Linked DNA regions of Homo sapiens. The protein of the gene in region 1 purifies or fractionates together with the protein of each later gene. This does not show direct contact. Each region holds a gene or a part of one and is shown in the gene's direction. Other genes may lie near its edges.

What was found. Proteins that work in one complex are often made in the same cells at the same time.
Region 2: the proteins of OLFML2B (region 1) and SIL1 purify together in Homo sapiens (co-immunoprecipitation; one large-scale study listed by IntAct). This does not show direct contact.
Region 3: the proteins of OLFML2B (region 1) and TNC purify together in Homo sapiens (co-immunoprecipitation; one large-scale study listed by IntAct). This does not show direct contact.

Annotation. Positions count from the first base shown.
Region 1 is NC_000001.11:162,020,844-162,025,341, reverse strand, and holds the start of OLFML2B (olfactomedin-like protein 2B isoform 2 precursor), read left to right. Parts: upstream 1-1,472; 5' UTR 1,473-1,911; coding exon 1,912-2,085; intron 2,086-4,498.
Region 2 is NC_000005.10:139,020,304-139,024,051, reverse strand, and holds part of SIL1 (nucleotide exchange factor SIL1 precursor), read left to right. Parts: intron 1-2,759; coding exon 2,760-2,881; intron 2,882-3,748.
Region 3 is NC_000009.12:115,115,293-115,119,720, reverse strand, and holds the start of TNC (tenascin isoform 1 precursor), read left to right. Parts: upstream 1-1,563; 5' UTR 1,564-1,739; intron 1,740-3,197; exon of another isoform or gene 3,198-4,428. UniProt on the Homo sapiens protein: Extracellular matrix protein implicated in guidance of migrating neurons as well as axons during development, synaptic plasticity as well as neuronal regeneration. Promotes neurite outgrowth from cortical neurons grown on a monolayer of astrocytes.

The DNA of each region.
Region 1 (4,498 bases):
CACCCCTGTAATCCCAGTGCTTTGGGAGGGCAAGGCGGATGGATGGCTTGAGGCCAGGAGGTCGAGACCAGCCTGGCAACACGGCGAAACCCCAACTCTAGTAAAAATACAAAAAATTAAACGGGCATGGTGGCGTGCGCCTGTAATCCCAGGTACTCTGAAGGTCGAGGCACGAGAATCACTTGAACCCAGGAGGCGGAGGTTGCAGTGAGCCAAGATCATCCCGCCACTGCACTCCAGCCTGGGTGGCAGAGCAAGACTCTGTCTCAAACAAACAATCAAATACACCACATTTTATCAATGTTTACCCCCATATAGTTTCAGAAAAGATTTGATAGCTTACACAGAGGAGGGTGTGTGCATGATGTCCCCACAAACCTAGACACCCAGAGCATTGAATTTTTGTCCATAAACTGAATTTTTTGAAGATTAAAATATACTAATAAGGGTTATTATTATACTTATGTCAACTATTACTTATATGCGCTAGTTTCCTTAGTTTATTACAACCCTTATTCCTCAGCATAAGAAGCAAGGTGTTTGAATTTCCCAAGGGTGCATAATATCCTTTGAAGGGGCCTGGCTCTGTTCAATATTCCGAGTGACAGTTGTCCAGGATGGCACAGTGCCCTTCCTTAAATTCACATATTGGTAATCTTCACTGTAGGTTTATAAAAGGTTGTCCTCAGTAATTGAGGGACATAGTAACATAATTGCACACTATTGAAAGTGGACTCCCTCTTAGAGATAATCTGGTAACAGAGACCCGGAGATTTGTCCCAAACCAGGAAGACAGGAAGAGCTGTTCCCTTTGGTAATCATTTATCAGGCAGTAGCTTTCCCCATGGGGACTCGCGGAGAGTGTCGGAGATGTACAGTCATTCCCCTAACTTTCAACGTTTACACAACTCAGGACACACTCTAGGAAGGAATTCAATGATTTTCCTCTGGGTGGAGGTATTACTAGGTTCTAAAGCCGTGGCAGGCAAGCAGCTACCAACGGCGCTAAGTTCAAAGCTGCCCGAGAACTCGCCCAGAGTTAAGTCAGGGAAAAGAAACGCCTGGGAACAAACGCGCCTTCTCCCCTGCCCCAGGTGTGCTAAAGGACGATGCCGCAGATCCCTAACTAGCTCAGCCTTGGAGCGAGCGCTGGGTGCCTGCGATGGAAAGTCGCTCTTCTCGCCAAGAATGGTCGAACCCCAAAACTTCAGGGACGCCGCTCGGAGTAACTTCTCTTCACTCACTTGCGATCAGATGAGAAGAAAGTAAAGCCCTTCCAACGTCACCCTCAGCCGGCGCGCGGCAGCTGAGTCCCAGCGGGGACGGGGTCCGCCGGGTACCCCTCCGCCCGAGCCCTGTGCGCTTCCAGGTCCTCCTCCTCCGCGCGGTCACTGGCTGCATCTCCGCCGCCCCGGCACAATAGAGGCTCCGCCCTCCTTCCGCGCGAGCTCTCCGCGGCTCCCTAGCCCAGCAGCCCTCGCCCAGCAGCCCGCGCCGCCACCGCCTCTTCCCTCCCCGTGTCCGGTCCCCGTGCGTCCCGAGGCTCCCCGCCGCCCGTCCCGGCGCGCACCGCGGGCGTCTGTCCGAACGCCTTCCAGCCACCTGAGCCCTCCTGCGGGCGACTCGCTCAGCTAGCCCGTGCCCGCCTCCACCTTCTCCGTCATCCCCTCTTCCTTGCGTCCGGCTCTCCACTGGGGCTGCACAGTCGAGGGCTGCTCGCGTCGGGAAGGAGATGCCCAGAGTCTCTGGGGCGCACCCTCCCGTCCCGCTCAGCCGCACCCAGCTTTAGAAGGTGCTCTCAGCAGCCACTTTCGGGCTCTAGCGAGGACACCCTCTCGCAGAAGTCCTTGCCGAGACCCCCCGCCCCAGCCATTCTCTGAAGGGGCTGAGGACACTCTTATCGCGCCCCTCATGGCCAAGCCTCGGCTGCTAGTTCTCTACTTCGCTCTGATTGTGGTTCCGGCCTGGGTGTCCAGCATTGTCCTCACAGGGACAAGCGAGCCCCCAGATGCGCAGACAGTGGCGCCTGCGGAGGACGAGACTCTGCAAAACGAGGCGGACAACCAGGAGAACGTTTTATCTCAGGTAGGATGCAGAGTGCCACGACCGCCCTTCTTGCCCTGGATGGTGGTGAGAGCCAGAAGCTGGTCCTTGCTGAAGTGTTTGAGGGCAGCTGTTTTTCCTTCCATTACCAATGGAAAGGGCTTTTGATTTTTCATGTATCGGAATATTTTCTTAATGGAAGGATATAGGTTCTCCTCGCAAAATCATAGGGTGCTTAAAGGTCATCAAATCAGGAGAAAGGAGAGGTGAAGGAAGGGAAGATGCCGCTCGACTTCTTGAGAAGAAAGAAAACAAAGTTGTTTTTGGTTTCAGGGTTGTAAAAAGTATCTCTTGTCTATGTGGCTGTCTGTCAGAATTGGAATGTGAAAACAGCCGGATATGTTGACCAGGAGGCAGATGGCATATCCCATCGGGAGATACTTTATGGCAGAGGGTGGGACACCAGGCGGGAGCATGGGGTGAAGTCAGAACAGAAGCATGTGTGATGAATGTGAGGTGACCCCCAAACAGAGAGACTGAGAACATGACGGAGTGTACTGGGAGGGGAGAGTGGGAATGCAGATGCAGGCAGCTAGGGCAGACTGTCAGTGGGGGCCCGAGTAACCCATGATAGTGATGGGCTTCGTAAAGTGTCCGTTTACCAAGTACTTAAACTTGTTTTTTCTGACTCAATCTTCAAAACACCCTAATACCCATTTATAGATAAAGACCATAAGAGATACATGGGTAGGCCGGGCGCGGTGGCTCACGCCTGTAATCCCAGCACTTTGGGAGGCCGAGGCGGGCAGATCACGAGGTCAGGAGTTCAAGAGCAGCCTGGCCAATATGATGAAACCCCATCTCTACTAAAAATACCAAAATTAGCCAGGCGTGGTGGCAGGCACCTGTAGTCCCAGCTACTCAGGAGGCTGAGGCAGGAGAATCGCTTGAACCCGGGAGGTGGAGGTTGCAGTAAGCGGAGATCGCGCCACTGCACTCCATCCTGAGTGACAGAGTGAGACTCCGTCTCAAAAAAAAAAAAAAAAAAAAAAAAGAAGAGATACATGGGTAGAGCCAGGGCGTCTGACAGTCTTCAGCCCAGATCTCATGTCTGTAAGGGGTAGTTCTCTCTGGAGTGTTTATTTTGTGCTCTCCAGAGCCGGCATGATGACGTGTGGTGGGTGTCACCAGAATCCTCAGAATGGGGGATGTCTGAAAAAGGATCCTCCAGGGCTGCCTGTACCTTCACCTCCACCAAGCCCTAGGACTGGGCCTTGTCTCCTTCCTGTAGAGAGAATAATCAGCTGCACTTTGGGATTTATCAAACACTAGCCTCCTCACTCTTCCTTTAATAATGATGCTAATGTATGCCCTCTGCCCCCCCATTACCTCCCACTGACCCCTAAATCGAAAAGACATAAAAATCTCTCACACTGGGGCTCTGGAACACTATCAACAAAAACTTTCCTGAAACCCGAGCCTCCTGTAAGGAAGGAATCCACCCAGGGTTCTCAGAGCAGGGTTATGTAGGAATCCAGGCAGAGTTTCAGAGAGCAGACAGCCACAATTTACTATCAGCCCGTAAAGAACAGCCGCTTAAGTCACCCTTAACTACACCACCTTCTTCCACTGATCCATTCTGTGTTTGACAACAGCCCTAAAGCAAATATTAGTATTAGAAGAAACCCAATCTTTGCAAGGAAAACATTACAAGTCTTCTTCCCCCAGACAGCATCCCAAGGAACATTTCTACTCAAACAAGCTCAATGCTTGCCCACTGAAATCATTAATCAAATGAAGGGAACCCTTCTGCCTGCCTAGGAAGGGAGCCCTGGCTTTGGGGATGTAGGGCCTTTTGGAGAGGATTGGGAGAGAAGAGCCTTTTCCCAGCAAGCGCCCAGAGTTGGGGCTCCAGAAAGCCTACTGTCGCGTGTTTTCCTGCCTGGGGAGGCTGGCAGGGGCAAGTGCCCAGAAGGAAATGTTTAGCATTGCAAAAGCAGCAAGTGCTGCCAGTTTGCTTTCCTGGGTTTGGCCTGGGGTTTAGGTTCAGAAGCATGAACTCTTAGACTGAGTAAACCTTACTAACTTCTGGACCTGCCTCTTTCCTCTCAATTCCCTTTCTCCACATCTAACCCATCCTTCAAGGCCCAGATTAAATGCCACTCCTCGAAGAAGTCTTCCCTGGCTTCCAGTTGGAGCCGCTCTTAGCTCCCACTGCCCTTTCCCTCTGCCTCTTCGGGGGCACTTATCACTCTGTACTCTGTGTGACTGCTATTTCTATGCCTCCTGCACTGTAGGCTTCTTGAGAGCAGGCTCTCCATCTGGCCCATCTCTTTATCCTTCACAGCACCTCACAGTCCTTAGTAGGCACTCCATAAATGTTGAATAAATGAATGAGAGATGCCAGTAGTCTTCAAACTTGAATACCAACTTTTCAATCTCTCCAATTTCTTCT
Region 2 (3,748 bases), on another chromosome or scaffold:
TCTTTGTTTTCCCTTGTAGGCTCTTTGTCACTTGGCAGTGTCTTCCCTAAGGTGACATCCCCATTCTGCTTTCACAGGCCACCTCACCAGACCCATCCTGAGGTCATCCCAAAATCAGTCCCTGGCAGAAGCCAAATTTGTCTGTTGGCAGAGAAATGTTCTGGATCATTGGTGTTTTGACTGGAAGGGCTGGTGCATCAGGCTGCCATGCAGCAATGTTAAGCTGTGATTTCACTGGGGGATTAAGTAAGACACAACTCGGCCCGAGTCCCAGTTGTGATGGGGGCTTGGGGTGATGTAGTACTAGTTTTAAGGAAGATGGCACTTTCCTAGCCAGGAACTTCCCCAGTCCTTTCTCATTCCAGACTCACTGAATGGTGGTTTGAGGAGCTGTAGGCTCCAAGGACCCAAACCAGGTCTGCCAGGCTTCCTCACAGCCATATTTGAATTATTAAACAGGATATGTGAAAAGCAAAACCTTGTGTGTGGAAACAGATGGTGAGTTATTTATGAGGAGCGGCCTCCGTCCGCCCCATCTACCTCGGGCAGTACATTTGCCTTCTCCCACGTGTCTCCTCAGCTGTGTGCCACCATTTTTCCCCTTCGCTGTTTCCCATTCTCTCATTGTCTTATCAGTGCCCTGCTTCTTTCCTTTCCTCCAGGGTGTTGGCATAGTTCCCTCCTGCACTCCCTCCTCCTCTTCCTCTCTGCCTGTCCCACCCCACCCCGAAGGCAGCCTGAGAACAGTTTTGGCCCCAGACCGAGATGGGGAGCTGTGGACCTGGGCTATGGTCATGGTTTCTCCTGTATGTCACCAGGGGGGGGCCCAGCTTTTGATGTGCACTGGGCAGAATGAATCGTTTCTTCCTCACTGTTAGTGAAGTAAACCATGAGAAAACATCCCAAAAAGGCTGAAGTGCTTATATAAATGTCTGCATTTCTATCATGCTGAATTATCATTGTAGTAATAGTAGATAAACTGACTCTAGAACAGAAGGTCCATGATTCTGGGCTGTGTTGCTTTGGAGCTGACCGAGTGGCAGCTGCTCTGCTAGGAACTCATACCAGCTTTATAAGTGGCCATTCCAGGCGTGGTATGACAGGATTCTGAGCCATAGTTTTGTATCCAGAAAACCCAGAGGAAGGACAACCAAAGAATAGGTAGTGAATTCTTACATTGTAAAATTAGAGCATGTAGGGAAGGAAGGAAGGTGCTTATGTCAGCAAAGCACCCAACCCTGAGTCTCCCTAGTTAGCTGGGCTGTGGCTCAACCAGTTATTCCTCTTCATAAGAACAGTTTGGGGCAGAAAAATGTCCATGGCCTGGGGCCACATGGCAGAGCAGACTTCATGCTTACTTCACAACCTGGTTTAGCCATTACTTCATGTCTGCGGTACCAGAGGCCCATTCATTTTGTTGGCACAGATACCCCAGATTGCCTTTTTATTCACACTGGAGCTTTATTTCAGGAACATTCTTTTCTGATCAAATTCATACTCATTAATGCAACAGTTATTCATTGAACACCTAACCATATGCTCAGCACCATCCTAGTCCCTGGAGCTACAAGCGTGGACAGACAGACAAAACCCCTGCTGTCATGGAGATTCCATCCAAATGTGTATGAATATGATTTTTCAAGTGGCAACAACAGGCTAGGCCACCACAAAACACTAGCACAGTCAAATACCAATCCTCACACTTGATTTCTCTGTCAGAGTCCTCTCCTAGTTCAGAGAGGCAAGGATGCAGTTGGGAAGGGGCCCTGTGGAATCTGGAGGAGAAAGATGGGTAGCAGCCACAGTTGTTGGGCTTCAGCTTCCTGAGTTTTCCTCATGATTGATAGCGTGGGATTAGCATATGGGCAAGATGCAGCCTTTGTGGCAACAAAGATATATTCGAGGGAGACTGTAGCGGGTACATGTAGAAAACAGGATCCAGTGACCTTTCTGAGGAAAGCGAGTTGTCTTGTTCCAGGGTACTAATAAACTGTGGGTAATGAGATCCGCTATAGAGTAAAAGAGAGAATCCGGACTTGGGGATTTGGAGCTTAAATGATAGCCTAGACCAATGCTGTTGAATAGAACTTTATGTAATGATAGAAATGTTCTGCACTGTCTGATACATAGCCACTAGCCAGTAGCACAGGCTTAGACAGAAACCTTTGGGAGAGCGATTTTCTTGCATATTTTATCATGAATGTCTTCAGATGCAGTCAACCTGAGATGCAAGAGAAAGGTACTATTGTTATTCCCCCCTCCCCAGCACTCTTACGGCAACCCCCCTCCCAATAACAGGGCTCCTTTTATAGTCCCTAGCTTCTAATTTAAAATCAGCTTTAAAAATCTGCCTCCACTGTCCCCATTGGGATTGGACATCAGCAGGAAGCATGGCACCATTTAGTGGTGCTGATGACGCCAGATTCTTTGTGTTAACAGCTTGTACATTAGGAGCAAGCTTTGTGACTCATTATGATATTAGAATTTTCCAGGACATGTTTGGCATAAGCAATAGCTAGGTGTCATTTCTGCTGATTCCCACGCAGGTGCTCATCAATCGTGTTAGATGAATTAGGAGTTCTCAAATTTAAGAGTATTAAAAAATTGGTTTTTACAAACCTTTTCTTAGTCAAAAAGGCCATTATTGATTTTTCCATGGCTTTTTAATTTGTTTTTGGGTAGTCACCAAAAGAAAGGCTCTAAGAACAGCTTTCCTGTCCCTGATGGCTATGCTGTACTAAGCAGTGGCTCTGTTGCAGATGGACAATGCGCAGGACCTGCTTTCCTTTGGTGGTCTTCAAGTGGTGATCAATGGGCTGAACAGCACAGAGCCCCTCGTGAAGGAGTATGCTGCGTTTGTGCTGGGCGCTGCCTTTTCCAGGTGAGCAGTATAATGGACGTCCCAATGGCCAGAATTGCTTGGCCTGATCTGCTTGGAAGAAGGGTACACTTGAATGTGCCTGTTGCTACTGACATTTCAGTGTCATCTCAATGAAACTAGAGTAAAATTTGATTCTGCCCTTATTCCAAGTAGATAGGAATTTTTACCCATGTTGTCACCATCTGTGACTCTCTGTTCCCCCATCTTATGTGTATGGACATTTAATAACACATCTTAGGTCACATTCTCTGTTTTATTCAAAGCTTGTAAAAAGTTAGACCAACTATAAATAGTAGAGAGGGAGGGGAATAAACAAGAGTAGGTCTTTTGGCAGTAAAGCTACATCTAGTGACGAATAAATGATGAGCCTGACCAAGGGGGTGCTTTCAGGGAGGAATGTGTCTTGCCCTAGTTGTCTGGAACCAATGTACATGCCGTCAGATTATCGCCCTCTCTAGGTTGGAAATTGTTGAGAATTTCAGTTAGTCTGGCTTGTGATGGAAGACTGATAAGGCAAGAGGAGTGGGGAGGTAGCATCTCGAAAGAGTAGATGCCAAAAGATATGTAGGCACCACATCATTCTACACCACCTGCAAAGGTCAAGATATCTGCATGCTGCAATTGGTCCATTGGAGCTATTGTTCCTCCCATTTTTGAAAATCTGCTCTTAGGACCATTTGTGCCTTTAAAACAGGAACAAATATTCTGATTCTTGCTGCAAGGGCATGGGTGGAGGCTATTAGATGCTTAGATGCAGGTCACGATGTTACAGGAGAAAAGCTATTCTGAACATATTTACCATTATAGGCTTTGTTTCGAGAAGATTTCCTTTGTGCTTTATCTGTGCTTGTTTTTTAAATCAGAATC
Region 3 (4,428 bases), on another chromosome or scaffold:
TTTTTTTTTCAGATGGGGAAACTGAGGCCCACAGCAACAATAATAACTGTGGGGATGATATCATTTAATATTGAAAATAAGTGGATAATTGAGACCTCCATTATTAGTAGTTAATTTTTAAAAATCAAAGATCTCTCCTAATTAGCTTTATGGAGCAAATAAATATATTTTCCATATTCAAATATGGCTGTGATTTCTACACAAATGGTGTTAACAATCTAATACAGCATAAAACATTGTTTAAATATCATCATACCCTATTCCTAAACAGTAACGTGTAATAGATCTCTGGAGCCCAGTGTTGTAATATAAACACTTCCCAGGTGTATTCCCTTGGTAAAGTTTCATTACTTCTCTAAACGTCAGTTTTCTTGTGTAAAAAAGAGACACTTGTGTCTATCCTACTTACTGGTTACAAGGATATAATAAAAATAGTGAACAAAAATAGTGTTCATAAAGTACCCTGCACAGCACCTGATTATAGACTTAATAAGGGAGGGCTCAATGGTAGTTGCGTTTTGAATTACATTTAATGCTTCATTTTACTTCACTGTCACAAACTACTATGCTCTGCGGCAGGCTCAGAAGTCTCTAGGCACGGGTGAAGTGCTACTTCTCCACTCCCTTAAATGCCCCTGTATGCCCTGAGGATACTCAATGCATGCTAACCACCAAACGAACGGATGACTCAGAGCTTGGAGGAAATCCACGGCAGGCTGGAAAGCAAAGGCGCAGCTTATGGCTCAAGGATTAGGTTGTTACCTTTTTAAATTATTGCTTTTCTTTAAAGAAAGGGCTGTGGGGGACGCCTTTCAGCACTAAGAGAAAACCTCAGAAATCCTTCCCCCTGGAGACCCAGCTGAGAAGACCACACCAGGCACAGGGCATGAACAATGTCAAAAAGCTACTGCCCTGCAGGACACTGGGGCTGGAACAAAGATGCCTCCCAGCAGCTGGGCAAGGCTGGCTCCCACACAAGAAAAGCAGGGCTGATGTGAGCGTCCCGCACGATCCCCACCTGCTGAGACCTAATCCTGGGTTATCTCTCCGCTGGCCCAGAGAAACCTGAAACCCCCCAGGCTTTTGAAGGGCTTTATCTCCTCTTTCCAGGAACTGGGCTCAGTCCCTGTACTCGCTCCGAGGTGCCACTGAGCAGCTGCTGCCCAGAGCCCAGGCGAGCCCTGGTCCCATTTCCAGCTTGACCAAGTACAAGAGGGGAGCCAGGGCTGCGGATCCTACTCCCTCTTGCTCCCCAGGCATCCGTCTCACAATTAGAAAACCCGTGTGGGGAGCAAAGCAAAAATCACATTTCACTAACAGCTACTCGGGGTCGGGGGCGGGCAGGCGGGAATTCCTACTTTCGCCATAAATTGTATGCAAATGGGTTCCTTCCCTGGCCGAGAGCCAGGAGTGAGTGCGTCTTTCATGAGCTAACCCTGTTCCGCTGGGAGGGCTGTTCCTTTAATTCGCCAACTGAAAAAGTGGGAAAGGATGTCTGGAGGCGAGGCGTCCCATTACAGAGGAAGGAGCTCGCTATATAAGCCAGCCAAAGTTGGCTGCACCGGCCACAGCCTGCCTACTGTCACCCGCCTCTCCCGCGCGCAGATACACGCCCCCGCCTCCGTGGGCACAAAGGCAGCGCTGCTGGGGAACTCGGGGGAACGCGCACGTGGGAACCGCCGCAGCTCCACACTCCAGGTACTTCTTCCAAGGACCTAGGTCTCTCGCCCATCGGAAAGGTAAGTCTGTTTTGCCCTCATCACTAGAGATCCTTATGATGTAAGGATTGCATTCCTGGTACCAAATGAGTTGTGATTTTATATTATAATTACAAAACATATGGGGTTTTTTTTTCCACCGCTGGAAAAAAAAGGAGTGTGTATTGGTTATATCAGATGCACCTTGACTTTTCTGGTCTTGTAATTTTGTTTGTTTTAACTTTATGAATAGTCAGACTTGGAAGGAACTTTTCGTAAAGTTGTTATCTTCTGCTGTTCTGCAGAGGAAAAGTAAAAATTTTCTCTTCAACTGCTCTCCTACTTCTAGTCTGGCTGATTCACCTGTATATATCTTTTATTTTGAGGGTTAGGGCAGTAGAGTTTTAAGGCAGACTTTGCTCATAGCCTGCCCCTGGGATGGGTTAGAGGGAGTTTGATAGAGGAGTGCAGGGAGAATATAAAAGTTTATATCTAAACAGCACTTACATAAAGTTTACAAAGAGTTTTGTACCCATTCCCTCATTTGGTCCTCAAAATATTCACCCTGGAAATGAGAGCTGGGGGACAGAAGAGAGGAGGTGGCTCCTGGGCCAGATGAATAACTGACAGGCAGCTAGAGAGTGGTGGAGAACAGCTTTACTGGGGTGCCTAGAGCCAGCAGCGTCCCACATGTCTCTAGAATCACCTCCTCCTCCTCACCTCTCATCACAGAAAGATCTGAGCAACAACATCCCCCAGGTATGGGAACCCTGCTGCCCCTGGTGTACTTTGGAAAGAACACAGGGGTTCTTCTCACCCATCAGTGTTGTAAGAGGAATAAGAGCTTAGGTTTGAAGCCAGAGGTGTTTGGTATTCTCCCCACCACCATACATATGACCCTGAGAAAGATACATCACTTCCTTAATCCTCAGTTTTCACATCTCTAAAATGGGGACAATAGCGTCTGCTGTCGTTTTGAGGAGAAAATGAGGTATAGAAAGATCAGCAATGACTGCTTAATAACTGGAAGTTTGGATAATCATTGTCATTGCCAAAAACTGCCATCACTCTGGAAGTTAAAAGAGGCATTGAGCCAGTCTTGGATTGTTTCTTGTGTGTTGTTCCTCAGCCCGCCCCCAGCCCCCGCTTTTTATCTCACCCAATCTGAGGGTGTCTCACTAGGCTGGCAGGTCTGAGACTTGGCTGTATTTTACAAGCAGGAGGTTGTGTTGGCACAGGTTGGAGAAAAGGTAGTAGCCCGGGGCTGGAAGTTAATGTCAAATTTTGATTCCAGAATGTCAGGAGGTTTTGAGTTTAGGCATCTGCAGATTCTAAAGCTGACAGCTATGAAGTACGATGCTGTTGGAAACTCTTTGGAAAAGCTTTCTGTCCGGAGGGAGGGCAGGACAGGGAGCACCACTTGAAGAATGAATGCCTCTTTTTCATGTTTTTGTAGACTTTTTCCCCCATTTTTACAGAGCTTTCCCATATGTGTTTTAGAAAGGAAAACTACTATCCATCCCAGCCAGGCAAGCCCAATTCAGGACTGAAGAAGATTTATTCAGTCCTAGACAACCAAGTGAAGAGTTTCTGGCTTTGTGCGCATACAAGTCATTTGCAGGAGATGTAAGTCAGCGTGCTTTGGCCCTTGCATTTCAGGAAGGTGACTGCTTTGTGGGGAAGAAAAAGGTGCACAATATGAGTATTCTCTGGTTTGCTCAAACAGGGTAAATTGGACAAGGATTGAAAGGGATGTTGCCAAGCTCTACAGTCATTAAATATTTTTTTCCTCTATGCTTTGTTTTAAAAACCTAGCTTCTCTATTTTATCCCACACTAACCTCCTCCTTCCCCACTCTAAGAAGTGACTAACGTTTCAGCCCTCAACTTTGTCATTCATATAATGGAGATGACAAACTATGTCTCACAGGGCTCTTGCAACATTCAAATGAGGTAATATATGGCAAACACTTGGCATAGTACCTTCCACATATTAAGGGTTCAATAAATGGAAACTTTTCTTAGTTTCTCTGTTTATCATTTTACAAGGACTTGTCCAAGATTAATATTCTAAGATCATGATTTTTAAACTTATTTTTAATGATGAAAATATTCATTACATGAATTTAGGGCAAACCCCCAGTATATGACAGGTAAATGCAGGGCTGCTTTGGTTGAAGTGGGGTCACAAGGTCTAAAACTTACACCTTTGCTCTTAGCCTCTGGGACATTGCCACAGAATCTTCAATGACAAAAAGCACATTTACAAATCATGAAACCAGGCTGTGTGCATTCTGGTTGCCATTCTGCCCTTCAACAAGGATTTTTGCCCCTCTGAGTCACCATCTGTAGCAGAAGTAAGAGCAAGTCCACAAATAGTGTAATAGACAGGAATATGAATGAGAAATAAAAGACTTAACAAAGGCTATTTTAATTAATTCTAATGACAATGATAGCCAAAATATATGATGAGCCTACTCTCTAAACTGTAGGCTTTTGTGGGATCATCCACAGCATGTCTCTGAGGTATGGACTATATTTGTTGGACAAAGAGATGGCTTCAAGAACAGGGAGACTGAATAACTTTACCAAGGTCCTAGAACTCAGAGTGATACAGCCAGGTTTCACACCCAGGTCCCCGTGATCACCAAGTCAGAGGTACATTCTGCCGTGTTCCTTCTGAATGCTTCTCTGCTTCTTGCCTGCCTTTAGAAGGAAAACACTTCCTTTCT